Linked DNA regions of Homo sapiens. The protein of the gene in region 2 interacts with the protein of the main gene of each other region in a biochemical or structural test. Each region holds a gene or a part of one and is shown on either strand. Other genes may lie near its edges.

Region 1 (15,251 bases), on a different chromosome or scaffold from region 2:
GCTCAAATGCAAGGACTGGAAAATATTTCCTATCACTCTAGCTTTGAAAGACAAATTAAGACACACAAAATCTTACAAGCTAACCACAAGAAGATACCACTTCACACCCAGTAGGATGCCTATAATCAAAAAGACAGCAACAAGTATCGGTGAAGATGTAGAGGAACTGGAACCCTCATATATTCCTGATTGGAATGTAATATGTGCAGCAGCTTTGGATAACAGTCTGGCAGTTCCGCAAAATGTTAAACATAGTGTTACCACGTGACTGAGCAATTCCACACTTAGATATATACCCAAGAGACCTGAAAATGTGTCCACACAGAAACTTGTACACAAATGTTCATAGCTGCATTATTCACATTAGCCAAAAAGTGGAAACAATTCAAATACCCATCAACACGATGAATGGATAAACAAAATGTGGTATCTATACAATAGAATATTATTCAGCCATAAAAAGGCCAAAAGTACTACGGATCAATACTATAACATGGATGAAACTTGAAATCATCATGTTAGGTGGAGTCAGTCACAAAACACCACATATTGTATGATTCCATTTATATAAAATGTCCAGAATACTTAAATCTATGGAAACAGAAGGTAGATTTGTGGTTGCCTGGGGCTTATGGGAAGGCGGGGAGTGACTGCTAATGGGTACAGAAAGTGAAGAAAATGTCCTAAAATTGATTATGGTTATTGTTGCATAACTTCATCAATGTAATAAAAAACTAGTGAATCATAGACTTTAAATGAATAAATCTTATGGTAGGTACTTATATCTCAATAAAGCTATTATTAGTTTTTTTAAACCTATAAGCTACAACACTGAATAAACAAATGATTAAAATTTTTATATTTATCAAGACTGCAACATAAGATCTTCCCAGGCTAAAGAGGATATACACATAGACAAGAAATAATAAGAAAAATATTCTCTAGTTCTCTCTTTAAAAAAAAAAAAAAAAGGCAGTGGAAGGGGCACACTCTCCTTCAACCAATCTTCCTCTAGCTCCTACCATCTACTTTCAAAATGTTAAAAAAAATGGAAAGACACTAAACCCACCCTTCACCCTATAATCTAGCTTCTTCCCATACCCCAACCCAAACTGTTTTTTCTAGTCACCAAAGCACTCCTATGTGCCAAATGGAATAGGTACTTTCTCAACCTCACCTTACCGGTCCTCCCAGCATTATTTGACTCTGGTAATAACTCCTTTCTTGAAACTCTCCCTGGCTTTTCTGACATCTCTGGTTCTCCTCCCTCCTCCTTGACCACACCTTCTCAGGAACAATCACTAGTATATCCTTCTTTTGGCTGTTATTTTAAGACTGATGTTCTTCAACCTAAAGCTGGTCACTCTATAAGTTTGTTGGAATAAGCTCATTCACTCCCATGCTGTCGACTATCTCCTACATGCTTATATTATGATGCCTACATCTTTAACTCCGTCCTGTCAGAAATCTTGAGCTCTACATTTCTACTGGATGTCTCAGAGGCACCGCAGTTTTAACATGTTGAAAATTAAATTTATCCTCTTCTCCCCCTGAAACTTCCTCCTACAATGTTGTTTGGTCTCCTCTACTTGTTTCTCCTCCCTCACTCCTTACTCTACCAAATGGTATTCTCTAGCTTGGGTGACAGATACCAAGCTAGATATTTTGCGAGTCATAACACTATACTCTTTTCTTCTTTACTACCTACATCTAATGAATCATTGAGACTCCTTTCTTAATTCTTATCAGATGTGTTGTATACACTCTATTTCCCCATCTCAGTTCACTTCAGGCCCTCACATCTCACTTCTTATATTTCAACAGCTTCCAAAATGCCACCCTTCATACTGCTATCAGATTCAACTTTGTAAAACACAAATGACTGTTTACCTTTCTTAAAAGACTCAGTAGTGCTCCAGAAACCCAGACTAATGATTCTCACCTTTTCTACCAGAACCTATCTAAGTAAGTGAAGGTTCAGAGTACAACTCAAGGAGCAGGCTGGAGAAGGTGAGATGGGGGAATGACGCTGGAGTGGACCAGCATGTCTATTTTCTTAACACCTCCCTACTTTCTCCATGTCTCTAGGAGTTACAATGCAGACTGTCCAGAATTGCTATTATCGGTCTGTAGAATAAAATCTAAGTATAGCATAGATGTAAGATCCTTCACAAAAAGACCTCTACCTAACTTTCCCAGCATTACCTTTATCATTTACCATGTATTAGCTCACTGGTTCTCAAAGTATGGTCCAGGACCACCTCCCCAACCCCCAGCCATCAGAGGGAGTCTGTGTGGAGTTAAAACCTAGGTCTGTCAAACATGAATGTGCACCACCCTACTTTATACATTTATCTCTCATTTTGTAAATATTAAAAGTAGAGATAATTGAGATCAAATTCTGGATCAGCCACAAATTAGCTATTTGCTAATTTATTAGCAAAATTAGCATGTTTTCAACATGCAAATAACCATCTAGGCAACATAGTTCTGCACAGTCTGGGTACCTTAGCTGTCTCCTCTTTAACAGTATGGGGCACAACCAAGGCCAGGAATAGACACTCATAGAATAGTAATGACAGGTGGAAAATTTCTATCCTCAATAGTAATCAAGAAATTCAAGTTAAAACAAGATATCAGTTTTCAACCATCAAATAAAGATCAAGAAAATTATAATATGAACACTCATACATTATGACAGTTGTATAAACTGACAAAACTTTTTCAAGTTTATGAACATGTATTAAATGTTTATATACGTCTACCTAGTACTCCTGGGAAGCTATCTTATGCAACAGTGAAAAATGTCAGTTTCAGCAAAAATGTTAATCACAGAATTACTATATGTAACAGCAGAAAGTAGAATGACCTAAATACTCAAACATAAAGAAACAAAATTAAGATATAAGATAGTTACCAAGTAGTAGGCCGGCTACGGTGGCTCACACCTGTAACCCCAGCACTTTGAGGCTGAGGCAGGTGGATTGCTTGAGCCCAGGAGTTTGAGACCAGCCTGGGCAACATGGGGAAACCCTGTCTCTACAAAAAATACAAAAATCAGCAGGGCTTGGTGGGGTGGGCCCATAGCCCCAGCTACTCTGGAGGCTGAAGTGGGAGGATCACCTGAGCCCAGGGAGACCGACGCTGCCGTGAGCCAGGATCGCAACCATGCACTCCAGCCTGGGTGACAGAGTGAGACCCTGTCTCAAAAACAGAACAAAACAACAAAACAAAACAAAACCAAAAAATATTAACAGAGGTAGCCTTTAAATGACAGGACTGTAGGACAGCTGGATAGAGCGAAAAGAGCATCATCACCAGTCAGGCAAGTGGAGTGTTCATTTGAACTGTGGTCTAAGTGTAAGGCATTATTATTATTCTATTAATTTCCAAATTTGGAATAAACATTATTTTATGATGGAACAGTTATATCAGCTACATTATCTCTAAGGCTCAGTCATAAAATGTTAAGAATTTAAAATGCATTTTTAATCGACATCAGAATTTAAAAATAATAGAATCTATAAGCTAATCTTTTTTTTCTCTTTCCATGCCAGGAGAACATAGTTCCTCTCCAGCCTTCCAGTCAGGGGAAAAAGCAGCACCAACTACCGGCTGTCTTAATTACAGCTATTGCTTATCAAGTCAGGAAATTAAAAAAAAAAAAAGCCCTATAAAAGAATAGCCTTAGTCATCAAATCTCTAATGTAGAATCACCTAGCTATACCTAGGTATCATGGAAGAAAAAGGAAACTCATTTACTCTTGGAGAAATGAACTCTCGGTGGCTCATGCCTGTAATCCTAGCACTTTGGGAGGCTGAGGCGGGCAGATCACAAAGTCAGTCAGATGAAAGTTCAAGACCAGTCTGGCCAATATGGTGAAATCCCATCTCTACTAAAAATACAAAAATTAGCCAGGCGTGGTGGCATGCGCCTGTAATCTCAGCTACTCAGGAGGCTGAGGCAGGAGAATCGCTTGAACCTGGGAGGTGGAGGATGCAGTGAGCCGAGATTGAGCCACTGCACTCCAACCTGGGCGACACAGCGAGGTGTTACATCTCAAAAAAAAAAGAAAGAAAGAAAGAAAGAAAGAAATGAACTCTCCAATAGGAATCCCTGACTCATCCCCAAAGCATGAACCCTAAGGCCACTTCTCCAGTACAGGAGTTCAGAGGCTGGGCAACCTGTCCTGATGGCCCGCATCACCAAACAATGCTCCTTCCTGACGGTATATGCCTAGGGATAACAAGGTGACTAGCATGCAAACAAGAAATGACCAGGGACCACACCATCTCTTCTTCCATAACCAAAGTAAGACGGTAAAAAACTAGTTTTAGGCCGGGCATGGTGGCTCACGCCTGTAATCCCAGCACTTTGGGAGGCCAAAGCAGATGGATCACTTGAGATGAGGAGTTCGAGAGCAGCCTGCAAATATGGCGAAACCCCATCTCTACTAAAAATACAAAATTAGCAGGGCGTGGTAGCTTGCGCCTGTAGTCCCGGCTACTTCGGACAAAAATTAGCCGGGCGTGGTGGCACGTGCCTATAATCTCAGCTACTCAGGAGGCTGAGGCAGGAGCATCGCTTGAATCTGGGAGGCAGAGGTTGCAGTGAGCTGAGATTGCGCCGCTGCACTCCAGCCGGGGCGACAGAGCGTAGAGCGAGACTCCGTCTCAAAAAAAAAACCAACCAACCAACCAACCAAACAACAAAACCCAAAAAAACTAGTTTTAAACATCTTAAATATTCAAAGTATTTTCTTCTACTTTTGCTAGAAAGTAGTAAAAAAGGGACTCCATCCAATTGCTGTAAATGACACCATTCAAAAGATACCAAGACAATAAAAACTCTCAATAGTAAAAAGGGAAAATGCCGTTTTCCTTAACCCTTTCAGATCAAAAAGTAATTTTTCAAAAATACATAGGCTAAATATCAAGAGCAAATGTTTAAATATAAGCAATATTTTTATTTTTAATAAGGAATAAGTTAGATTATTTAACTTATATTTTCAATCTTCAAAAGATACTGAGAAAACTTTACTTCCGTCCTCTATTATTGGTCTGGGGAGGCGGGAATCACAAAGCTCAACGATGCTAGTATAATACTGTGTATGGTCAAGGGCCTATTTTATAAGCTGTTAAAAATTTAACGCTAAAGCTTTACTAGACCAGTCTCTTTAAAACGTGAAAAAGTATTCACTACTAAGTCATATCACCTCCACCATAAAAACTACTGTACTTTTTAAACAAAAAATAAAAACTAGCCAATGTTTGCTGCCCATTCATTTTACAGGCATTAACTGTGTATCCTTCTCATAATCAGATTTCAGAATTAAGTGATTATTCTTCGAGGTGTACCTTACCCAAGATAAAAATTTTCCCCAGCTTATTTCCCATTCCCAACCCCCGCCAAGACTAAGGAGCAACCACTTCCCAAAGTCCCACTTCCTTTTTCATTCCCCAGACCTACAGGGTTTCCAACGCCCCAGTCTTGCGCAATATCCGTAGGAGCAGCAGCCGCAACCACCGCCTCCTAAGCCGGGAAACAACCCTAGAGGGAACATTGTCCAGCAGAAAAATAAAAAGGGCGGGGGTTGGGGGGGTGGGTAACGTAGGAAGTCGACTTCTGGTCTCACGCCTTCGGATCTGACCCCCTCACAGTGTGCTAAAGCAATAGTGTATCTAGAGCAATTTCATGAACAAGACTTTTAACCTTCACCTCCTCTCAAGACTGCCTGCACAAGCAGAGGGCGGAAAGTAGGGGGTGGCGGAGGCGGGGGGGCGCTGGGAAGGTTATCTCCCAGTTCAGGGCTTCGGCCCGTAGCGTCGCCTCCGCCCCACCAGGACTATTGTTCCCAAGTTCCCCACCCCCACCCCGGATAGGAAGTGATAGTCACATCCCCTCCGCCTTCGGCAATATCCCCTGGGGAGTCCGAAGTCGGCTGGCTTCCTTCAGGATAATTCCCCCACCCACACTTATCCCCTGAACCTATAGTCACACGGACCCCAAGACCACCTCAAACCTGGGCCTCAGGAGAGGAGAAGCGGGACGCGGGTAAATGGAAATTAGGTAAACCCATGAGATTCCTTATGGGCAATCCTTTCCCAAGCGTTGGAGATCATGACTGCGACCCCAGAAACGGCCTAAGTCCTACCCTGCCCGCTTTGAGACCAGCTAGAGCAAAGGGATCCCAGGAGTTAGTGCCAACCTCAATACCCCCGTTCCTCTGTCAGCCACGATCTGCACTCCTCCCGGTCACAGCCAGATACCTTGCCTCGACCCTCCTGGGAGGAGCGAACTGCGCGGGGAGGTGTGGAAACGCGAGCCCCCCCCCCCGGCCTGCACCTCACTTGCCTACGGCTCCCGGCCCGGTAAACAATAGGTGGTCGCGAGCCACGGTGCAGGCTGCGGGCTCGGCCGCGCGGCCGCTCCCTTCGCGTCCCGGGAACCCGCGCGGGGGTCGCGAACATGGGAGAAGAAAGGAGGCCACGGGGGGAGGCGCTCTCGCCTCCCGCTGGCCTCCGAGACCACCCGGCTCACCCGGCTGGTGCGCGCCCCCTCCGCCCCTCTCCTCACAGAGGTACACAAAGCACTGGCGGCCCGGCCGGGAGAGGCGGCGATGGGCTCCGGCGCCGGCAAGAAAACGCGACAGCGAGGGGAGAGACTCACCATGAAGTCCCGGGCGAAGTTGTCCTCCCCATTGTGGTCAGGACTCTTCATGGCCTGGACCCTCTGGATGAATTTCCTCAGGATCTCCACTTGCTCCATCCTCCCGCGTCCCCCCGGCTGCGGTCGCTGGCCCCCCCGCCGCCCGCCCGCCCGGCACAGAGCCCGCTCCGTCTTCCCCAGCTCGTTCCCCCAGCACGTCCCTCCCTCCCGACCCCGCCAAGCCCCGCGGCTCCCTCCTCCTCCCCACCGCCCTAGGCGGCGGCTGCGGCGGCACCGGCTGGGCTCCCGACACCACAACTTCCAGGAGCAGCCGCCGCTCTCCCACAGTACCAGGCGAGCCGCTGCGCTAGCGCCAACCCCAACCCCCAGCTTGCTCCATCCTCCTTCCCCGCCCTCCTCCTCCGTCGGAGACGCCGCCGCCGCCGCCGCCGCCGCCGCCGCCTCAGGAACACAGCTAGCTCTCCGCTCGCCCTGCCCCCCCTTCCCGGTTCCTCCTCCCCCCCACCCCCCGCCAGCAGCCGCAGCCGCAGCCGCAGCCGCCTCTCCCCACGGGCGCGTCCCCGCCGCCACCCAGATGCGCGGCCTCGCGCTGCGGCTCCGCCCCAAGCGCTGCGCCCGCAGATGCATCCCCGCCCGCCTCCCGGCCACGCCCCCAAGCCCGCCCCGCCGGCCCCAGCCCCGCTTGGAGTGGCTGGAAGGCACTTCAGCGGGCGGCCTGGAGACCTGACTCCATTTCCGGGGCGTGGCCCCGCCCGGGGTGCTCAGAGGTCGGAGTATCGCTGGGAGGAGAGTTGGTTCATTTGGAGGAGGGAATGCGACTCTGAGCGGGCCAAGCCCTAGTGGGTCAGAGTAGGATTCTGATGGAATTTGCGGTCTCACCGCCTACTAGGGAGGAAAAGCAGTTTTCAGGAGTCCCGCACCGCCGCCAGCCGTGGGCTGGGACTACAAGTCACGGTCTGTGGAGTCCAGGAGTGGGGGCGGGCGGGAGGCAGGCTGGGAGCTGTAGTAGTGTCACCGCCACGTTCGCAGCAGGTAGATGCTCATCTTGCTAACGGATTGGTGAGAGTGGACAGCAATTAGGCTTTGGCACCTTGGAGCGTGGCTCCAGCTAAGGGAAGCGAAACGCTTCCTGGGTGAGAGGACTTTTATTCTTTGCTCATCCTCTTAAACCTGGCGAGTGAGCGCCTGAGGTTCGGAGTGCCTTCTTCACAGACGACGCGAATGTGGGGTCTTCGTGTTTGCCGAACTGAAGGGAATTTGCCTTCCTGCCTTTAGGTTCGCAGCAGTTCATAACTGAATAAGAGACTTTCCTCCATAGAATGGACTTTATAAATCTATTAATTTTTTTTTTTTTTTTTTTTTAGAGCTAAGGTCTTGCTCTATCTCCCATGCCAAAGTGCAGTGCTATGATCACGGCTCGCTGCAGCCTTGAACTCCTGGGCTCAAGGCATCCTCCTGCCTCACTACGTCACCAAGCCCAGCTAATACATTTTAAAAATTTATTATTTATTTATTTATTTATTTTTGGTAGAGAAGGGGGTCTCACCAGGTTGCCCAGGCTGATCTCGAATTCCTGTGCACTAGGGATCCTCAGCTTCCGAAAGTGTTGGGATTTTAGGCGTGAGCCACCGCGCCTAGCCTATAAATCTTTATTCATCTTTGTAAACTTCTATCAGAGAATATATTCTGGTCTAACTCATCATTTTACAAATAAAGCGACTTCCTGACATCCCCCAGCGTATTCTTAGCAGAGCCGTAACTAGAAGTTATTTTACTTTCACAACAGTGGCCTCTCACAATGTGACAGAACTGAAGGATTTGATCCATGAACTGACTTTCGTCATTTATACCCACAAACCTTTTTTTACAGAGCAGATTGGTCAGCGAATTTGGTTATAATAGGAAATATCAGTGGTAGAATACTTTCTCAGATGAAAGTTAGGAGCACTATGGAATTTAGTGAAAAACTCATTGAAGAAAATAGGTGTAGGCCGGGCGCGGTGGCTCACGCCTGTAATCCCAGCACTTTGGGAGGCCGAGATGGGAGGATCACCTGAACCCGGGAGGCGGAGGTTGCAGTGAGCTGTGATCACACCATTGCACCCCAACCTGGGCGACGGGAGTGAGGCCCTGTCTCAAAAAAAAAAAAAAGAAAAGAAAATAGGTGTAACAGGATATAGTTTATTTACTTCTTCAAAAAAAGGAAAATATTTCTGTTAAAATAATCCAACTAATACATCCACTCCAGAAATATGCACTTCAGACCAGGTGCAGTGGCTCACACCTGTAATCCTAGCACTTCGGGAGGCCGAGTTGGGTGGATCACTTGAGGTCAGGAGTTCGAGACCAACCTGGCCGATATGGTGAAACCCTGTCTCTGCTAAAAATACAAAGCCGGGTGTGGTGGTGCACGCCTGTAGTCCCAGGTACTCCAGAGGCTGAGGCAGAAGAATCGCCTGAACCTGAGAGGCGGAGATTGCAGTGAGCCGAGGTCGTGCCACCACACTCCAGCCTGGGTGAAAGAGCGAGAGTCTGTCTCAAAAAATAAAAATAAAAAGGCCAGGCGCGATGGTTCACACCTGTAATCCCAACCCTTTGGGAGGCCGAGGCGGGCGGATCACCTGAGGTCAGGAGTTCAAGACCAGCCTGGCCAATATGGTGAAACCAACCCCGTCTTTACTAAAAATACAAAAAATTAGCCGGGCGTGGTGACGCATGCCTGTAATCCCAGCTAGTCAGGAGGCTGAGGCAGGAGAATTGCTTGAACCCAGGAGGCGGAGGTTGCATTGAGCGAGATCACGCCATTGCACTCCAGCCTGGGCAACAAGAGCGAAACTCTGTCTCTAAAAAAAAAAAAGAGCCTCCCTGCCTGATTCTCCTGCCTCCGCCTGCGGAGTGCCTGCAATTGCAGGCGCGCGCCGCCACGCCTGACTGGTTTTCGTATTTTTTTGGTGGAAACGGGGTTTCGCTGTGTTGGCCGGGCTGGTCTCCAGCTCCTAACCGCGAGTGATCCGCCAGCCTCGGCCTCCCGAGGTGCCGGGATTGCAGACGGAGTCTGGTTCACTCAGTGCTCAATGGTGCCCAGGCTGGAGTGCAGTGGCGTGATCTCGGCTCGCTACAACCTCCACCTTCCAGCCGCCTGCCTTGGCCTCCCAAAGTGCCGAGATTGCAGCCTCTGCCCGGCCGCCACCCCGTCTGGGAAGTGAGGAGCGTCTCTGCCTGGCCGCCATCACATCTAGGAAGTGAGGAGCCTCTCTGCCCGGCCGCCATCCCATCTGGGAAGTGAGGAGCGCCTCTTCCGGCCGCCATCACATCTAGGAAGTGAGGAGCGTCTCTGCCCGGCCGCCCATCGTCTGGGATGTGGGGAGCGCCTCTGCCCCGCCGCCCCGTCTGGGATGTGAGGAGCGCCCCTGCCCGGCTGCCACCCCGTCTGGGAGGTGAGGAGCGTCTCTGCCCGGCTGCCCCGTCTGAGAAGTGAGGAGACCCTCCGCCCGGCAGCCACCCCGTCTGGGAAGTGAGGAGCGTCTCCGCCTGGCAGCCACCCTGTCCCGGAGGGAGGTGGGGGGGGTCAGCCCCCCGCCAGGCCAGCCGCCCCGTCCGGGAGGGAGGTGGGGGGGTCAGCCGCCGGCCAGGCCAGTCGCCCCGTCCGGAGGGAGGTGGGGGGGTCAGACCCGCCCGGCCAGTCGCCCCGTCCGGGAGGGAGGTGGGGGGGTCAGCCCCCCGCCCGCCAGCCGCCCCGTCCAGGAGGTGAGGGGCGCCTCTGCCCGGCCGCCCCTACTGGGAAGTGAGGAGTCCCTCTGCCCGGCCAGCCGCCCCGTCCGGGAGGGAGGTGGGGGGGTCAGCCCCCCGCCCGGCCAGCCGCCCAGTCCGGGAGGGAGGTGGGGGGGGTCAGCCCCCCGCCCGGCCAGCCGCCCAGTCCGGGAGGGAGGTGGGGGGGTCAGCCCCCTGCCCGGCCAGCCGCCCCGTCCGGGAGGGAGGTGGGGGGGTCAGCCCCCCGCCCGGCCAGCCGTCCCGTCCGGGAGGTGAGGGGCGCCTCTGCCCGGCCGCCCCTACTGGGAGGTGGGGAGCCCCTCTGCCTGGCCAGCCGCCCCGTCCGGGTGGGAGGTGGGGGGGTCGGCCCCCCGCCCGGCCAGCCGTCCCTTCCGGGAGGTGAGGGGCGCCTCTGCCCGGCCGCCCCTACTGGGAAGTGAGGAGCCCCTCTGCCCGGCCACCACCCCGTCTGGGAGGTGTGCCCAGCAGCTCATTGAGAACGGCCAGGATGACAATGGCGGCTTTGTGGAATAGAAAGGGGGGAAAGGTGGGGAAAAGATTGAGAAGTCGGATGGTTGCCGTGTCTGTGTAGAAGTAGACATGGGAGACTTTTCATTTTGTTCTGTACTAAGAAAAATTCTTCTGCCTTGGGATCCTGTTGATCTGTGACCTTACCCCCAACCCTGTGCTCTCTGAAACATGTGCTGTGTCCACTCAGAGTTAAATGGATGAAGGGCGGTGCAAGATGTGCTTTGTTAAACAGATGCTTGAAGGCAGCATGCTCATTAAGAGTCATCACCACTCCCTAATCTCAAGTACCCAGGGACACAAACGCTGCGGAAGGCCGCAGGGTCCTCTGCCTAGGAAAACCAAAGACCTTTGTTCACTTGTTTATCTGCTGACCTTCCCTCCACTATTGTCCTATGACCCTGCCAAATCCCCCTCTGTGAGAAACACCCAAGAATGATCAATAAAAAACAAAACAAAACAAAACAAAAACAAAAAAACAAAAAAAAGAAAAAAGAAAAAAATGCACTTCAAGTTATGCCCTTCCAAATTTTTTCCTATGCATTTATATATGTGTGTGCATGCAAAGAGATACAGTTTTGCTCTGTATTTCAAAAATTCACTTAGAGGAATAGTTTAATTTCTAAGGTAAACTTTATTTGAAAAAAGGGCCCGCAGTATTTTACTTTAACCAGATACTGAGACTGAGTTTCACGGGATGTGAGGAAATGCCAGAATCAGGGCTTGATCATGCTTATTGTAGATGGCCCTTTCCCCTCAGAAATGGGAGAGAAATTCGACTGTAGGAAGAGAAATGGAAGGATGATCAGAAGTGCCTCTGCTTTTGATGGTTCAAAAGAATGTACCAACCAGACAATGATCGGTAAAGAAGATATGCTGAACAAGTTGTGTAACAGTCTAGTACGGTTTGGTATAGTGTTGGGTAAGAAGTGTTACTTGTTTAAGGTATTGAGTCCCATTTTGGCTGGTGTTTTTAGTCTTTTTTAAAATGTTTCGTCTTATTGGCAAGCTTCTCTCTCTTTCTTGCAACACTTGAGAGTTTCTTGAGTTCTCAGCGGCTACCTTTGGCATCTACTGCTAGGTTTGGGAAAATTTATGTAAACTATCTCCAAGGATTTCAATTCTTTTTTTTCTTTTTTTTTCTTTTTTGAGATGGAGTCTTCCTTAGTCGCACAGGCTGGAGTGCAGTGGCGCGATCTCGGCTCACTGCAACCTGAGCCTCCTGGTTCAAGTGATTCTCCTGCCTCAGCCTCCCAGTAGCTGGGCTTACAGGTGCCTGCCACCACGCCCGGCTAATTTTTTTGAATTTTTAGTAGAGATGGGGTTTCACAACGTTGGCCAGGCTAGTCTCGAACCCCTGACCTCAAATGATTAACCCACCTCGGCCTCCCAAAGTGCTGGGATTACAGGCGTGAACCACCAAGCCCCGCCAGGATTTCAGTTCTTTGGAAAGGCTTAGCAGTGCTTTCCTTGGTACCTTGCTAGCTTTTTCTTCTTCTTCTTCTTCTTCTTCTTTTTTTTTTTTTTTTTGAGACAAAGTCTCACTCTGTCGCCCAGGCTGGAGTGCAGTGGCGTGATCTCGGCTCACTGCAAGCTCCACCTCCCGGGTTCCATGCCATTCTCCTGCCTCAGCCTCCCGAGTAGCTTGGACTACAGGCGCCCGCCCCCATGCCTGACTAATTTTTTTGTATTTTTAGTAGAGACAGGGTTTCACCATGTTAGCCAGGATGGTCTCGATCTCCTGACCTCGTGATCCACCCACCTCGGCCTCTCAAAGTGGCTTTTTCTTCTTTTCAATACATTTAGGTCTTGTTTCAATCTACATATGGCTTTTTAACATATCAACATATGAGGGTTTATGCTGTGTGTGTCAGATACAAAAATGTTATAGAGATGGCTCCTACTCCTAAGGAATGAATATCTTAGTTCAGGAGACAGGAAAAACAATAAACTCTTAGTTACTTTAAGTTAATAAATGTGAAAGAGTGATACAGATAATAAGTGATTTAACAGTTCTGAGGAGAGAGAATTGTGGACCGGGCTGTCAGCATGGGGTGGTCACAGAGGTAGACCTTAAAGGGTAAGTTAAATTAGGTTTGAACAGGAAGTAGAACGCCCAGGCAAGAGAAGTGATAAGCATGAAGACAGCAAAGCAGAAGTTTGAAGTAGAACATTTGTATAGATGTGAAAGCTCCAAAGTAGACTAGGCTCTGGAGAATGTTGATACTGTAGGCATGGGAGCCACAAGAGGTTTCTGAGGATAGAAGCAAAATTATGGAAATGAGGAAAATAGTAATCTGGTACTTTTCTGATAAATTGTGAATGAGAGAGAAGGGAATGAGAGATATTAGGAGCCAATACATGAAACAACAAAAATAAAAGTAAGAAGTGGCCGGGCACGGTGGCTCACGCATGTAATCCCAGCACTTTGGGAGGCCAAGGCGGGCAGATCACGAGGTCAGGAGATCGAGACCATCCTGGCTAACACGGTGAAACCCCGTCTCTACTTAAAAAAAAAAAATACGAATAATTAGCCGGGCGTGGTGGCTGGAGCCTGTAGTCCCAGCTACTCCGGAGGCTGAGGCAGGAGAATGGCGTGAACCCAGGAGGCAGAGCTTGCAGTGAGCTGAGATCACGCCACTGCACTCCAGCCTGAGTGACAGAGCAAGACTCCGTCTCAAAAAAAATAAAATAAAAAGTAAGAAATGCAGGCTGGGTGCCCTGGCTCACGCCTGTAATCCCAACACTTTGGGAGGCCAAGGCGGGCAGATCACTTGAGGTCAGGAGTTCGAGACCAGCCTGGCCAACACGATGAAACCCTGTCTCTACTAAAAATACAAAAATTACCCAGGCGTGGTGATGTGTGCCTGTAATCCCAGCTAGTCGGGAGGCTGAGGCAGGAGGATTGCTTAAGCCCCGGAGTTCCAAGCTGGAGTGAGCCATGATTGTACCGCTGCACTCTAGCTTGGGCAACAGAGCAAGACCCTGTCTCAGAAAAAAAAGCTGGGTGGAAGGAGGCAGATCTTGTTTGGGAGATTTTTAAAAATGGCACATGGTAGGTCCAGCTTTAGAAAGCTCACCTACCTATACTATAGTCTCAGGGAAATTTACTGCTCTGCCTATCCTCTGTCACAGCCACGTGTTTGGGCAGTTGAGAAGTTAATCAGCCCATACAGACTGGCCAGCAACCTATGTCCTGGTATAAGAAGATGGTCTGGGCCAATCAGTTCTCACTCTTAGGAATCTGAATTTGGAAACCTAGAAAGAGTAAGTCATTATGCAGCAAGGGCAGAAGCTGAATGTATGCCATGGGGTAGAATTAGCGATTTGAAGCCTTGAGAGAGAGTAGAAAGTATAAAGAATCTGATTAGGAAGAGAACATTAGGATGCACTCAGTGGCTCACGCCTGTAAGCCCAGCATTTCGGGAGGCTGAGGCGAGCACATCACTTGAGGCCAGGAGTTCGAGACCAGCCTGGCCAACATGGCGAAACCCCGTATCTATAAAGTAAAATAAAATAAACTTTTAAAGGAAAGAAAAGAACATTAAGCAGACATGCAGCAATATGTGGGTATGTCACAACATAACCCATATGGCCATGGGGGAGATGGGGAGAATCTCCAGAGTAACCTGACTTCCGATAAACTTTTAGGAGAGGTTCAGTTGACATTTATTCCATAAGTAAATTTTGCTTTTCTTGAAACAGAATAGGGCAGTAATAAAGAGCGTGGGCTCTGAAGTCAGAGAAATGAAGGTTCAAAAACCTGTTCCATTTCTTGTTCAGGGTAAGTCACTTAAGCTGTCTAAGCATCAGTTTCCTCTTTTAGGAAAGCCACCTGGTGCTGGCTTAATGAGATAATGTTTCAGCAGTGGTGTACTATATACTTACTCATAGAAAACACAAAATAGGCCAGGCGCAACGGCTCACACCTGCAATCCCAGCACTGTGGGAGGCTGAGACAGGAGAATTGCTTGAGCCCAGGAGTTTGAGAACAGCCTAGGCAACACAGTGAGACCCAGTCTCTACAAAAAAAATTTTTAAATTACCCAGGCGTGGTGGTGCATACCTGTAGTCCCAGCTACTTGGGAGGCTGAGGTGGGAGGATTGCTTGAACCTCGGAGGTTGAGGTTGAGGCTGCAGTGAACTCTGATGCCACTGAATTCCACCCTAGGCAACAAAGCAAGACTCTGTCTCAAAAAGAAAAGAAAAACAAAACACAAAATAATAACTGGTTAAAGACCGTTAATGATTTCTGGGTCTTGTGCTTTTTTACCTCCTTCCTCATCTCTTTAGGCCCTTTTCC
Region 2 (14,819 bases):
CTCTCCTAGGCATCAGGACATCAGACTACAGGTGGTAGGAAGACCCAGAACAGCTGAGGATGGTTCAGGCAAGCAGAGCTGGGGGTGGAGGGCGGGAGATCAGCACAGAAGTCTGGATCAGTGTCCCTGGAGCTGCAGTGAATACTAAACGCAGCCAGGTGTGAGGTCTGCACAGCACAGGGAAGCACAGGGTGTGGGTGGGGTGTTTGGGGATATCTGTGAGGATTCTCACTGACCCTGAAACCAAAGAAACAGGTGTGGCTGGTGCCAGGACCAAGGGAAGACCAGCAGCTGAGCCTGGGTCTAGGGTCAGAGCAGGAGCCGCTCTGAAGCTGCAGAAATTTCATCCCCGTCCTCAGATAACTCCCAGTCCTCAAGGGAAGGAGCTTGCACTCAGGGTCTGGCAGTCTTTTTGTTTTGTTTGTTTTTTGAGACAGAGTCCCACTCTGTTGACCAGGCTGGAGTGCAGTGGCACCGTGTCGGCTCACTGCAACCTCCGTCTCCTGGGCTCAAGCAATTATCCTGCCTCAGCCTCCCGAGTAGCTGGGATTACAGGTGCCCGCCACCACACCCGGCTAATTTTTGTATTTTTAGTAGAGATGGGGTTTCATCATGTTGACCAGGCTTGTCTCGCACTCCTGACCTCAGGTAATCCACCCGCCTCGGCTTTCCAAAGTGCTGGGATTACAGGCGTGAGCCACTGCGCCCAGCATTCTTGATCTGAGTCCTACCTCTGTGTAGGCTGAGAGTAAAACGTTAAATAGTGAGTGGTCCCAGAGAGCACTAGGCTCCTCACACAGCCCCCAGGCCTGGGGTAGGGGGAGCATCTGACTCTAAGTAGAGTCGTGTTTCTCCACCATGCGGCTGTGTGTAACATGTACACTGGCTGTGTTGGGCAGAGCAGGGCGATTTCCCAGACTCCAACATAGAAGCCTTTACTTGGCAGGCGCCATCTTTGTCTCTCACTCTGACCTTGGAGCCCAGTGGCCCGCTTCGATCCTACTACACTCATGGGTGGTCCTGGGGAGCCCCTCAACTCTCTGAGCCTTGGTTCCTTGTTTGTAAATATTGTAGTAGTAAACTAACTTTGGTGGTTAGAGGATTGAGAGTGGAGACATGCAGGTTAATGGCCAAGCAAGGATAAGGAGCCCCACGTGCCATCCCCTGCAGGTGTGGAGTCCAACTAGCCCCCCAGGCACGGAAGGCCTCAGGCTCAGCTCCGAGGCCCTGAACCTGCTGAGGATGGCAGAGAGAGCCAAAGGGCCTCCAGAGGCTGCAGGGGTCCCTGCCTTCAAGGAAGGGCACGGGCATAGGAGTGGAGCTCCTCTGAAGCTCTAGGGGCCCATCTCTGTCTCTTGAGCAAGTCCCAAGCCCAGGGGAGCCTGCCAGCCCTCACACCTACAGCAAATCACAGCCGCAAAGCAGGCACCTCATATCAGCCCTATAAGGGCTTAGGAGTCCACGTATTCTCCCCAATTTACAGATGAAAAAATTGAGGCCAGAGAGTGGGAGCCACTAGTCTAGAGAAGTGTCCCAGCTAGGATCAAACCCAGTTCTCCTTGTAAACGCCCCTTCCCTGGGCTCCTCTCAGTTAACATGCATGAATCCCCTCGGCTGCCCTTCCAGGAGCCCGGTGAGCGTCAAATGCCCTGCATGAGGCTCCTGCAGGTGTTGTCCATTCAGTCCTCAGAGCCCCTGGAAGTGGGTGATGCTCTCATCCCGATCTCACAGAGGAGGAATCTGGGCTCAGGAGGTTTGTGACTCATGCAGACTGTGTGGAACTGGCCAGAACCAGAACCCAGTGCCTGAGCCCTGTCACGCCCCACTGCCTGGACTCGCTGTGGGCCTGTCCTCCCCTGGGACATCCCTGGCAGGCGTAGGTGGTGTGGGAGGGCAATGCCTGGGGACGGGGATGTGCAATGACAGTGCCTGGACCACTGGTGCCCCTGGCTGGTCACTCACAGGCGGGAGTCCATTCGGCAAGGAGCCGTGCTCTTCCTGTGAAGACGCCTGGACCCCTCCTGGCTGGCTACAGGGTCAGTGCCTCCTCCAGGGCTTGGGGTCTGGGGTGGCTCAGCTCCATCCTCCCCTGCATCAGTCACCCCCAAGGGCCCACGGCCTCCCTTCCTCACTTGCCCTCACTGTCGGCCTCCTTCCTCGCCCACTGCTGGATCCTAGTGAGCCTCCAACTGCCAAATCAGCTTGGCAGGGGCGGTACAGAGCTGTGTAACCTGGACAAGTCACTGTTATCCTCACTTCCTTGTCTGCCTGTAAGATGGAACAGTAACAGCACAGTACTAACTTGACGGGGTTCCCTGAGGACTGGAGGGGATCATGCGTGAGAGCCCCACCAGGCACCGCACACTCAATCCCTTCCCCTGAACCTGGAACCTGGTCCTGGTTCCTATGACCTCCTGGGAAGGTCCTGCCCTTTGCTGTGTGTGACTTGGCTCTCCTCAGTCTGGCCTCAGGCCACCTTACAGACACCTGCTCCATCTCCCTGCACCTGTCTCTGCTGCCTTGAAGCAGGTTGCACAGGAACAGCACTAGCACTGGACTTCCAGGCAGCTGAGTCTGAGGGGCGTGTCTCCATCTACCTCTGGCCGCCTTGTGTTTGCTCCTTGCCTCCTCTCTCACTTTTCTTCTCTTTTCTATTTCTTTTTCTTTTGAGACAGGGTCTTACTCTGTCACCCAGGCTGGAGTGCAATGGCTCAATCTCGGCTCACTGCAGCCTCTGCCTCCCAGGTTAAAGTGATTCTCCTGCCTCACCCTCCGAGTAGCGGGGATTACATGTGCCCGCCACTACGCCCAGCTAATTTTGTATTTTTAGTAGAGACAGGGTTTCACCATGTTGGCCAGGCTGGTCTCAAACTCCTGAGCTCAAGTGATCCACCCCTCTCAGCCTCCCAAAGTGCTGGGATTTCAGTTGTGAGCCACCACGTCCAGCCCTCTCTCTCTTTTCTGCATGTTTTGGTTTCATGACACAGGAGAAAGAAGTGGGGATTGGGCTGGCCCCATGAGAGTGAAGGAGGGGAAGCAGGCGGGGAACTCAGGCAGTGGGGTGCTTTCCTGCCTCATCATTGAGAAGGCCTATTTAAAAGAACAAAGCTTTCAAGCCAGACAGACCTTGGTCAAAAGCCAGACGCCCCACAACATTAGAGAGAGTCACCTCTCTTGTCTTCACCTTCCTCATCTTCATGACAGACAGTAGCTGCCTCGTGGTCAGTATTGCTGAGGGCAGGTACCACACTCATGCACAGTGTGTCCTTGTCCAGTGCCTGTGTTGTCCCTTCAGTGGGACCCCTGGGAGTCCCTGGAAGCTCACAGGGCTCTGATGGGGTCCCTGTCAGCCACGGGCCTGTGGGCCTCCCAGCACAGTGGAGCCCAGCCCAGGCATCTCTGGGACTCGGCCAGCTGGGCTGCTCAGGTGAGGGGCCCTGTAAGGCCCGGCAGAGGCCATCAGACTGGGACTCGGAGGAGAACTGTGGCACTCTGGAAACTCATTTCTAATCTCAAGGTCCTGTCAGCCCAGGTGAACAAAGAGTCGCTCATCTGACATTAATGCACATTTGTTCTCTAAAAACTAAAAGTCTGTCTTTGCCTTCTTGGCCCTCTGTCTTCAACACTTACCCTGGGCCATCTCAGACAGCTGTAAGTCATCTTCATCCCATATTTATTTGCTTATACATGGATCGCAGCAGTACTTGAGTCAGGGGACCCCTAGACACCAAGTCCCTAGTTTAACAGGCCATCTGAGGCTTGAGTCCTCTCTGTGGAACCAGACCTGCTTACAGACTGTAGTGATGGGCGCTCCTCACCTGTCAAAGCCCCCCACCCTCTTTCCATACCTACAGCCATTCAGGCTCCTGGGAAGCCTTTCCTTGCATTGTCCTGGAGTTGGCCTCCCTGTCTCTGCCCCCATGAGTCCTGGCTTGGGCTGGGAAATGCCAGCCACTAGTGCTCCCTCTGCTTCTGATGGCCCCACAGAGATCTCCAGGTGAGACTTTTCCTAGGCCATTCCCTCACAGCTTTGGCTTGGAACTCTCCCTTCCCTCCCTATCACCTCCTCCCAAATACTCTGGGTAAGCAACCGCCTTGTTTACTGAGGGCTCTGGCCATCCATCCATCCATCCATCCATCCATCCATCCATCCATCCATCCACCCACCCACCCACCCACCCATTCACCCATCCACCTGTCCATCCATCCATCCGTCCACCCATCTGTCCATCCATCCATCCACCCACTCATCCATCTACCTACCCATCCACTCATCCACCCATCCACCCACCCATCTACCCATCCATGCATCCACCCACTCACCCATCCCTCCATTTGTCCACCTGTCCACCAGTCCACCCATCCACCCACCCACCTATCCACCCATCCATCCATCCACCCACCCACCCATCTACCCATCCACCCATCCATCCACCCACCCATCTACCCATCCACCCATCCATCCACCCACCCATCTACCCATCCACCCATCCATCCACCCACCCATCCATCCATCCTTCCATCCATCCATTCATCCATCCATCCATCCATCAAGTTGTACCTGAGTGTTTGGTCCTTTGCCTGCCTCACTTTGCCAACCAGTAATGGTGGAGAGGAGTCCCACTGTGGGGTACTGACTGTAGGGCGGTGGAAGGAGCCTGGTTGCTACCCATTGACTTAGCATCCCTGTGCCTCTGTTTCCGTATCTATACAATGGGGATGATAATTCCTGTCTCAGAGGACTGTTGTAAGAAGTAGAGGGGACCAGTGTGACTGGCTTCTTTAAAGGTGCTGGGTAATGGGTCATTGAATCTGCAAGCAAATGATCTGGTCCCCTCCATGGGGCACCTCAGGAAGCAGCCGTCATAAGGCCTTGTCCTCTTGAAGGCCTCACTGAGGCGCTTCTCCAGCCCATCACTCAGCATGTCTGTGAGCAGAGCTGTGTGTAGGCACCAGGTGCCGGGATCCAGTGGGGAACCTGAAAGACCCCCCTCTGCCTCCATGGAGCTCAGCCCTTCCTACCTCAGGTTTTCAGTCCACAGAAGACAAGCAACAGGAAACTAGGTGCTAGCAAACCCACAGTGTCAGCCACACTGGCTGCAGATGTCACTGCTGGTGTGAGGGAGGAGAGCACCCCAGCACCATGCAGCTCCGTGCAGCTACCTTCCAAAGCTGCTGCTACGTCTTGCTTCCCCACCTGTGGCCCATGCTGGAGCTTTCCCAGTCATCTTCAGGTGTAACCCAATCCAGTCCAAGCTAGTATCACAATTTCACTCTCATTCAATTTAAAGCTCCCCAGTTCCCCGACTTTCACTGGAAGCCTCTGATGGGGAAAAGAGAACAGGGTCAGTTTCCTCCCTTGCCATGGGGTACCCACACTGCACTGCCAGCTGCCTCTGGGGTCTCCATGGGGGGGTGGTGGGGCACAGGCCGTGACTGTAAAGGGGAGAAACATCTCATTGCCCTGGTACTGTTGTAACTGGTGACAGTGAATGCACACAGGTCAGCCCTTTCTCTCCCTGGCACCTGGGCAGGTTTTTTGGTGACCCTGCCCCCCTGGAGTCCCTGACCACTCCGTTCCCTACAGCCTTCCACTTCCAACCTCTCCCGTTGCACCCAATAGTCTGCTCCACTCAGCTTCTCCTAGGGGCTCCTCTCTCCCTGTCAGGCTATTCTCATGGACAGAATTACCAGGCAGCTCTTCCTGGCTACCTTCCACGGCCCCCACTTGGTTCCCAGGGAAGATTTTGGTGCCAGTTCTTGGACATAGCAGGTAGGAACTCGGACCAAAACCCAGGTGTCCCCCTCCAAGGTTGGAGGCTTAGCTGTCCTCTGATAGATGCTGTATTCTGGAGTGCCAGGCAAGGGAGCATTTGAAAAAGGCTCTGCTCCCCTTTAAATGGAACCTCTGGTGGAGGAAGGTGTGTAGGGCGAGAGGGGAGGTGATGAGGTGACTCATTTCTTCCAGCCTGGCCCCAGCTGAGGGAAGGTGTTTCTGGTCGGGGAGGTGGCAGGCAGGCGGGGAGGGCTCGGGGAGCTGCTGCTTGCTGAACTGCCCCTGGGTGACAGGCCCTGAGTGTGGGGCTTTGCAGAGAGGCAAAGTAATGGGAAGTTAACAGCCAAGATCGTGGCTTGGGATATCTGGGTTATATCCCAGCTGCACCCGGCAGGTCCCTGGGCAGATTGGGTAACCTCTCTGGGTTACCTTTTCCTCATCCATAAAATGGTAGTCATCACCCCTAGCCCAGTATCTGCCTTGTGGTGAGCCCTGATCTTGAGTCCACTGTTCTCACCTATGCGCACGATTTCACTTGCTTCTCGGGTCACCTCTAGGCGGTGAGAACTATTAGGCCCATTTTCACAGGGAAGGAAACAGGCTGAGAAGGGCCAGGGTCACGGGAGGTGTGAACCCACATCTAGTCAGTCAGACCCTTCCCAGCCTCTCAAACAGGCCCGAGTACCCTCTCTGACCTGTGGCCTACACTAACAGGACTGTGCCCTAGAGGGGCGGGCTGTCAGGGCCCGAAAGGGGGTTAGCCTCCTGCCCCCACTTTCCCAATGAGGAAACCAGGTCCTGAGAAGTAAAGTGGCTTGCTTCAGGCCCTGGTGTCTGTGGTCTCGCCCCTGCAGCCACCAAGAGTTATGGGCGTGAAAAGGGGGAAGTGGCGGTAGTTACAGAGGGTGCTTCTCCACTCAAGCCGTGGGGGTGTGGAGGGCCCTGGCCGGCTCACAGGCCTGGGCCGTGGCTCACACCAACACCCACCAGAGAATGAAGCCAGTAGGCTGTCCCTGACAGAACAGGGCACCCAGGCCTTGGCCACACTGCCTCAAGGCAGAGGCAGGAATATGTTTCCTCCCAAGAGCCTCCTCCTGGAGTTCTGGGATGCCGCCTGAGGCCGATGGCCACACACCATGGACGGCGAGGGCTGGGTCCCACATCTGGCTCAAGTGAGCCTCCCAGAGGAAGAGACTGTGCCCGCTCCCCACCTGGCACCCCTAATCCAGGACGGGTTATCCTGGGTGCCACATGGCTGGGCCGTGACCACTGGCTGTTCATGGGTTACCCAGAGCCGCACTCCTCTGACCCAGCCTGGGCCCCAGGCTAGCCTCTGTGAATCCACAGTAACTGAATTATAGCCCAAAATACAGCTTTGATTTGAGGTGGAGATAATTTGAGTAATCATTTTCAAGAGTTATTTTTTCAAATCATGTTTGGATGTTCCAAAATAGAAAATGGTTCCTGGGCTGTCTACTAAATGGCTGATGTAGGTATATGGCTTTGGGGACAGGTTGACCTGCATTCAGATCCCAAACTCTGCCCTTTACCCATTGAGTGGCTTTGGGCAGTCTCTTTCCCTGTTTGGGCCTCCTGTCCCCATCTTCGCCTCCCGAGATCTGTGTTGTGGTCAGGAAGATAACGCTATGATACCCTTGGTGCAGTGTGTGCCAGGTAGACTTGATAAATAGAGATTTCACAAAGGGCAGGGCCACAGGCAGCATTCGGATGACAGAGGTTGGACAGGATGAGGGGAGATGGAGGTAAGAGGAGTGGGGGACAACTAGGGTAGGTCCCCTGGGGGTGATGCTGATGCTGGGTCTTGGGTGGCAGACCCACATGACTGATTAAGTTACAGGATGATTGGTTCATTCATTTCCTAAACACATCCTGAGCCTGACTGTCCCAGCTCAGAGCACGGAGTCAGACCCATGCCCTCGAGGAAGTGGCAGGGGTGGGGGTGAAGGAGGAGGGCGCGGGCTGGGGGAAGGGGTGCAGGGCTGGGAGGCATCGTGAGCAGCCCCTGGAGAGTCAGGCACTTCCTCGGAACATCCCAGTCCTTGTGACAGTAGCTCACTCGGCCACAGCCCCTGCCAGCAGCCCAAAGCTCTGAGCGGGGGACTGGGCGGGATCCTGGAGCCTGCAGCCTCTGGGGACTTGAGCACGGCGGTCACAGCCTGCAGGGCCTCTCGCTGCTTTCTGACTCCTCCCGAATGGCCAGCGTAGGTTCGGTTTGCTTCTCTTTCCACTCTGGGGGCCTCCATAAGGACAGGAGAAGGGTTCCCTTGGCGTCAGGGCTGGGTGTGGGGCTGGGCTCCAGGTGGCCTCTCCAGAGGTATCAGGAAGGAATGACAGGTCCCCTGAGAGTCCGGATTCTTGTCCTGACTCTGCAGCGTCAAGCAAGCCATTTCCTTCTCTGGCCTCAGTTTCCTGAGGAGTGAGGGAAGCCGCACAAGGTGGTTCCCAGTTCTCAGGGCGGGGGGGTCTGTGGCATTCTGACATGAATGCTGGTGTCCCTCCGGGCAGGTGCAGGAGGCTGAGGCCCCAGATTTGTTTTTCTTCCCAGCCGCCAGGAGCTCTGACCTGAGGGTCTGGAGTGAGGGCAGAGGCTGAGGGGTGGGAAGGGGAGGGCTGCTGGCTGCAAGCAGCTGCCCACCAAAACCACAGAAATGGAAGCCTGGTCCAAGCTAACCCAGTGATGTCAACCTGGACATGGGGGTGGGCGCCTGCCTCTGAGGCTGGGGGGACAGCTTCTGGCCTTCCAGGCTAGACACGCTGCTTGTTGCTCTGTGGACAGCTGAGCCTGGACCAGGCCCTCCTCAGGAATTTCTAGGGATGCTTATGGAGGGGGTAGGAGCTTGGGGTCCTAAGTGTCCTACAGGCCAGGAGAGTCCACCTGCTGAGGGTGGGCTGGAGTTTGTGGGGAGGGGGGGCACTGTTGGGGCAATTTATGCCATTGCTACCCCTACTTCAGATTCTTCTTAGACCTTGGAGAATACCTTCTCCTTCCAGCACCTGACTCAAATGCCTCTTCCTGCAGAGAGCTCTCCTGGATTTCGACTCCATCCCTGTTCCCCTCACACCCCTAAGGTGGCATTTGAGGGGAGACATGGGTCAGGGGAAGGAGTACCAGGCTTTACCTGAGTCATGTGTGTGCGACCCTGGAGTGTGCGTGACCTTGGAGACTGTAATGTGTGTGGTCAGGGGAGCTGGGACTTCTTCCTCCAGTCTCTGAGGCTTTAGGGGTCCTCAGGGATAGAAAGGAAGACAGACTAGGTGCGGAATGTCAGGCCTGCCTTGGTGCAGTTGGTGACAAAAATCCTGTCTCCCCAGCACCTCTCAAGCTCCCCTGGAGTAAGCCTGCGTGCAGTGCCTGGGAGAGCTCAGGGGGTTGTGGCGGGGATCCTGGCCCCGGGACCCACTCCCCAAGCCTGGGAATGTCCTGGGAGACCTCTGTTCCTTCATAGTCCTTAAAGACTACCTCCCTCCCCCAACTTCTCACACCCAGCTTCCCACACCAGCAGCTCAGACACACACCTGGAATCCACTGCACAGTGAGAAAGGAGAATTGGGTTGGCCAGGAACAACAGCCAGGGCAAGCAGGGCAAGTGCCAGGCAGCAGAGGGTAGCTGTCCCTGGAGAGTTCTCTGAGGCTCCCCACCCCACCCCAGTCCAGAGGTGAATGTAGGGTGTGCTTGCGCATGCTCTGACCTGGACTGAAGTCACCCTCCATGCCCACCTCCCTGGATCTCCGTGAGGGGGGGTTTCCTGAGCCCACAGAGAGCCCAGCGCAGCATCTGGCACATGGCTGGTGCCCAAGAAACCGCAATTGCTGTGATGGTCATGGAGACTGCACAGTGCTGAGGTGAAGGGCAGGGACCCCAGCCAGACAGCCTGGGGTTCAAGGCCAGGCCAGCCACTTTCCAGCTGGGCCGCTCTGGATACGATCACATGTCACCCTCCTACACCTCGGTTTCCCCACTTAGCTGAGATAGGGATATTGGAAGGGTGGCACTGTGAGTGAGTGAATTTCAGGCCTGGCTGTCATCAGGGGGACTTAAGGGTGGCTCTTCCCATCTGCTATCTCATGCTGATGTGTGTCCTGTCCTGTGAGCTCTCCAGATGCCAGGCCCGGCACCCCCGGCCCTGTCAGCTGGGTGGGGCTCACTTATGTACCTGTCACCTCTGCAGATGTGAGGGGACCTCCTGTGTGCCTGTGTAAAGCCAGGTCTGGAGTCCCAAGAGCTTGCCCTGAGCAGGGGAGATGGAGGCAGGAGGGAGGCTGTTCCCAGAGATGGTGGGAGGGTCCCCACAGGGCTGTGCTCAGTGTCGCCTGGTCGTGGCCCTCATGTGTCCTTCTGTCCTGTGTCACAGTGCAGGGACTTCACAGCCCACACGGGCTACGAGGTGCTGCTGCAGCGGCTTCTGGATGGCAGGAAGATGTGCAAAGACATGGAGGAGCTACTGAGGCAGAGGTGAGCTGCTGGGCAGGCCATGGGGAGCGCAGGCAGGAAGCAGGTGGCTTCCGCTCGGCTCCTGGGACAGTGGACGAGGCCCCCATCCCAGCCAAACTCTGTCAGAACACGCCCTGCTTTAAAAAACTCTTCTGTGTTCCCTCAAACCTGGGCCTCCCCCAGAGGTGGCAAGTCACTGATGATCTTTCAAATGCCCTTTTTTTTGCAGGGCCCAGGCGGAGGAGCGGTACGGGAAGGAGCTGGTGCAGATCGCACGGAAGGCAGGTGGCCAGACGGAGATCAAGTAAGATCTCCCGGGCCCTGGGGCTCACTCCTCTCCTCTGCTGGCAGTTTCTGGGCCTTTAGATGAGGTTTAGGTCTTCCTGGCATGGGGGAGGCTGGGCAGAACCAGGGTAGGTCTGGATTGCTCCTTGGTGCCTGGTTATTGGGCATTCAGGGTGAGGCCAGGTTCTGTGAGGGAGGAAGCCCGAGGGTCTGAGTTCTGGAAAGGGTCTGGGCAGGGGAGACAGGAGGCCATCCATCCTCAGTCATTTGCAGCGCAGTCTGCACCAGCCTGGGTGGCCTCCACTGAAGTCCTGAGGGGCAGGTGACAGGCGTCTCCACTGGTGGCTCAAGTCCCCTGCAGCACTGGCTCAGCATGGGCTTCAAGGATGGAGATGTAGCCAGAGACAGGGGTCCAGGAGGGGACACACCTGGGTTCCGGTGTCAGCTCCTCACCCCCCAGCTGTCTGACCATGGGCTGGCTGCTGACACACTCTGTGGCTCCGTTTCCTCATCAGTGATGGGAAAGTAACGCAGCCCTCCTCAAAGGAAGAAGTGGGCCCATGGGCTTAGCTGAGGCCTGGTTAGAGGGCAGGCCGTCAGGGAAGTGGCTCTGATGAAGCGGGAGTCTCCAGCCCCACAGGTCTCTGCACGCAGACTGCTGGGGTGGGAGGCCAGGTGAGGAGATGAAGGTGAGTTCAGGACACAGCCACCCTAACAGTGGAGTGGAGGGGCTGCTCTGGGAAGGCCCAGACTGTCCCCCTGGGTGAGGACAGAGCCAGGCCAAGGGGCAGACAGACCACCGGCCTCCAACTTCTTGAAAGGGCTCTGCAGAGTCCTCCTGCCGAGGGGCCCTGAGCCTGACCCTGCAGCTGCTGTGGAACCCCTTCCCTTCCTGCCTTCTCCCCCGAGAGAGGAACTGAATGTGCCATACTCTGAAGGTCCCCCAAAGACACCAGGCACCCTGGCGGCTCCTGCTTCCAACCAGGAGCCAGAGATCACAGGAAGGCTTAGATGTGGCATGAGCCGTGTGTGAGGCCAGAAAGTTGCACACAGCCCTGGGAGGACGGAGGGCTCTGAGGAGCCCTTGGAGCTCTGGTCCCGGCTCGGCCAATCTGAGCTGTGGGACTGTGGGCCAGTCGCCTAGCCTCTCCAAGTTTGTTTCTCACCTCCCACTCCAGCGAGCTGCCGTGCAAATCAACAAGAACATGGTCTGAGGGCCTCCCAAGGGAAGGGCTGAGGGCCGGGTGCAGGCTGGGCACAGAGGAGGGCTCAGGACATGGTGAGGAGTGAATGGACGTATGCAGGGAGGTGTTTTCTGCAGGAAGCAGTGCCCAGAGCTCTCAGCCAGGGGAGGAGCAGCTGTGGGGGCCTGGCAGCATGACCAGGGGAGCCCCTCCTGGTCTCCTGGCCTCCCAGCCTCCAGGCCAGCTGGAAGAGAACTTTCCCAGAAAGAGAGGGTACCTCATGGGGAGAACTCAGAGACTCAGGAGAGGTGGAGAGGGTGGCCCCAGCAGGGCACAATGGGAGCCAGGCTGGAGTGGGTCTGTGTGATGCAGGCTCAGGGGATTGTGAGTCACAGGGGATTTACAGCAGGGAAAGAGAAGCTACCCACAGAAAATACAATGGGGGTGGGGAGCAGGGTGGGCCTCAGGAAGCAGGAGGTACGCAACATCTTGCTCCATTTGTAGAACTAGGAAGGGGCCAGGTGGAGGCTCTGGGCGGCCCTGATTGCGCCATGGTTATTCAAGGCCAGGTGGGGCAGGGTCTGCCCTGACTTATCCTTTGTGTGGCCCTGGATGGTCCTCCCTGTCTCTGAGTCCAGGGTCTGTACCTATGGAAGGGGATGGTCACTTGGAGAGGTGTTCTGGGCAGTCACAAGGACAAGCAGAGAGTGCCAAGCCACAGGGGTTCACTGCACACAGTGGGGCTCCATAGTGTTGCTCTTGACCCATGTGGCATGAAGTACTGTTGATGAGGCCATGCAGCTGTTCCTTTCGGTGTAGGCCAAGCATCCATCCTCCATCCATTTAGTCACCATTTAATTGAGGACCTACTATGTGCCATGCCCTGGATGGGTCAGGAGGATTCACTAATTTAAAATAAAATAAAGGGCTTTGCCATTCCTTAGCCAGAGTCCAGCACAGTGAGGGTGACTTCCTTCTCCTTCCTAGTCCTTTGCATTAGGGCCCATTTATGCGCCACCTCCTCCAGGAAGCCCTCCCAGACACCTTGCCTTGCCTTACTGTCAGAGTCTTGGCTTAGACCCAATTACCCCTCCCCATGCCAACCTGAAGGGCTTTTGGTGGGGAAGTGTGAGCAGTGGCCGTGGACCTGTTTCCTCATCTTAGACTCCTGTGGGGGGGGGGGGTGTGTGTGTTGGCCCTCAGGAAAGGTGACCCGGCTCTTCAACATCGGGGCTGGTGGCCCACCCTCCAGGGCCCATCCCTGAGTAGGGGAAGCCCCTGGCCTCCCTGAGGCCCACAGCTGCCCCCCAGGTCTATGGGATGCTCATTCCCTGCCCCTTGCAGAACGGGCAGGGGACTGGGGGATGGGAAGGCTAGGAACAGGGTGCAGAACGAGGACAAAAGCCAGGTGGTTAAGTGACCCTATAAATAGCCTAGTGAGCCCTGAGGGCAGAACTGCTGCCTGAAGGTACTGCATTTCTGCAGTCCCCTGACCTCAAACCAGCCGGGAGCCACCCTCAGGCCTGGAGGCTCGGGCCACTGAAATTAACAGGAGGTTACATCTTAAGTGATTTTTGACATGTACCTCCTTCACATGTTAACTCAGCAAACATCCGTGGGGCAGTGGCAATGGAGGATGGACAAGTAAGACCCAGTCCCCAAACTCCAGGGATCCCCACCAGCGCTTTCAGTGCATTTTAAAGACAGCATTAGGGCCAGGCGCCGTGCCTCACGCCTATAATCCCATCACTTTGGGAGGCTGACCTGAGGTCAGGAGTTCGAGACCAGCCTGGCCAACATGGTGAAACCCCGTCTCTATCAACAATATAAAAATTAGTTGGGCATGGTGACGCGAGCCTGCAGTCCCAGCTACTCAGGAGGCTGAAGCAGGAGAATCACTTGAACCTGGGAGACGGAGGTTGCAGTGAGCCCAGATTGCACCACTGCACTCCAGCCTGGGCTGCAGAGCGAGACTCCATCTTAAAAAAAAAGATAGTGTTAGTATTTGCAGGGGGCTTACCAACATTGCTGACATCACATGTCCAGCCCTGCAGAGACTTTGCCTGACTCTCCTTTCCAGCCTCTGGGCCTTTGCTCCTGCTGTTGCCCTGTTGCTCCCCTGCCCAGTCCCACCCATCCCTCAAGGCCTGCCTGAAATGTCACCTCCCTCAGAAAGCTGTCACCTCCACTCCCCTATTGCTCATCCTGCGTCAGGTAAGGTGCTGGGGGTGCTGCATGCCCCCAGAAGCTGCACAGGGCAGGGGTTTGGGAAACAAAGGAAAACCAAGGCAAGGCCAGCTTCCTGTAGCCCCTCTGTGGTTACCAGTGGGCAGGTACAGCCCCCAAGGGGTGCAAGTTTGAATCCTCACGTCCCTGCCTCACCCCCAGTTGTCACAAACCAAAAATGCTGTGGTTTTCCTGTCAGAGAGATTTTTAAAATTTTTTTCATGGTCTCTCTTCCTCTGAACTCAGAGAGAATGACGACATTGCTGAGGATATTGGCGGGAGAGAGCCAGGCCCTGTTCCTGTCAGATGTCCCCTGACGCTGGCTCATCGTGGGCACAGCCTCAGCACAGGGAGCCGAGAGGGCTACTCCTGTCAGCTGGTGGGCAGGCAGCAGGGACACAGTGGGGTCAGAGCAGGAAACACACTGGAAATCTGGACTGTATTTGAGCACAGAATTTCAGACTGAGCTTCCTGAGAGCCGAGTCAAAAAGGGCAATGGGATGAGTTACACATGAAGGCACTGGTGACAGATGGCAGTAGGCAGAGGCCTGTGCAGGACCCTGTCTTCAACATGCGATGGAGACACAGTAGAGGTGCTCAGGGAGATCTTGACAGTTTCCCTGCACAGACGGTGGGAGGAAGCAGGAATTTCATGGGGCAGAGAATGACTTTATGTGGCCCCCAGATCCTCCCCAAGATCAGAGCTCAAGGCTGTTCACTTTGGGGGTTCTGGGGCAAAGCTGGGCTCCTCCTCTCATCCACAGAGCTGAGGCTGCCTCCTTGAAATTTCATCTGGGGCCAAGAAAGGGAGGAGTGTTCTGGGCCTTGTTGTGTGAGCTGAACTAGGGTGGCCTGATGGTTCCAGCAACGGGGACAGGGGACCTGGGGCAGGAA

Evidence for each region.
Region 1: the proteins of PSTPIP1 (region 2) and PTPN12 form a complex in vitro, tested with the Homo sapiens proteins (one study listed by BioGRID).

Annotation. Positions count from the first base shown.
Region 1 is NC_000007.14:77,529,065-77,544,315, reverse strand, and holds the start of PTPN12 (tyrosine-protein phosphatase non-receptor type 12), read right to left. Parts: upstream 7,022-15,251; 5' UTR 6,770-7,021; coding exon 6,671-6,769; intron 6,274-6,670; exon of another isoform or gene 6,210-6,273; intron 1-6,209. UniProt on the Homo sapiens protein: Dephosphorylates a range of proteins, and thereby regulates cellular signaling cascades. Dephosphorylates cellular tyrosine kinases, such as ERBB2 and PTK2B/PYK2, and thereby regulates signaling via ERBB2 and PTK2B/PYK2.
Region 2 is NC_000015.10:77,007,998-77,022,816, forward strand, and holds part of PSTPIP1 (proline-serine-threonine phosphatase-interacting protein 1), read left to right. Parts: exon of another isoform or gene 1-59; coding exon of another isoform or gene 60-68; intron 69-10,150; coding exon 10,151-10,251; intron 10,252-10,459; coding exon 10,460-10,534; intron 10,535-14,819. UniProt on the Homo sapiens protein: Involved in regulation of the actin cytoskeleton. May regulate WAS actin-bundling activity. Bridges the interaction between ABL1 and PTPN18 leading to ABL1 dephosphorylation.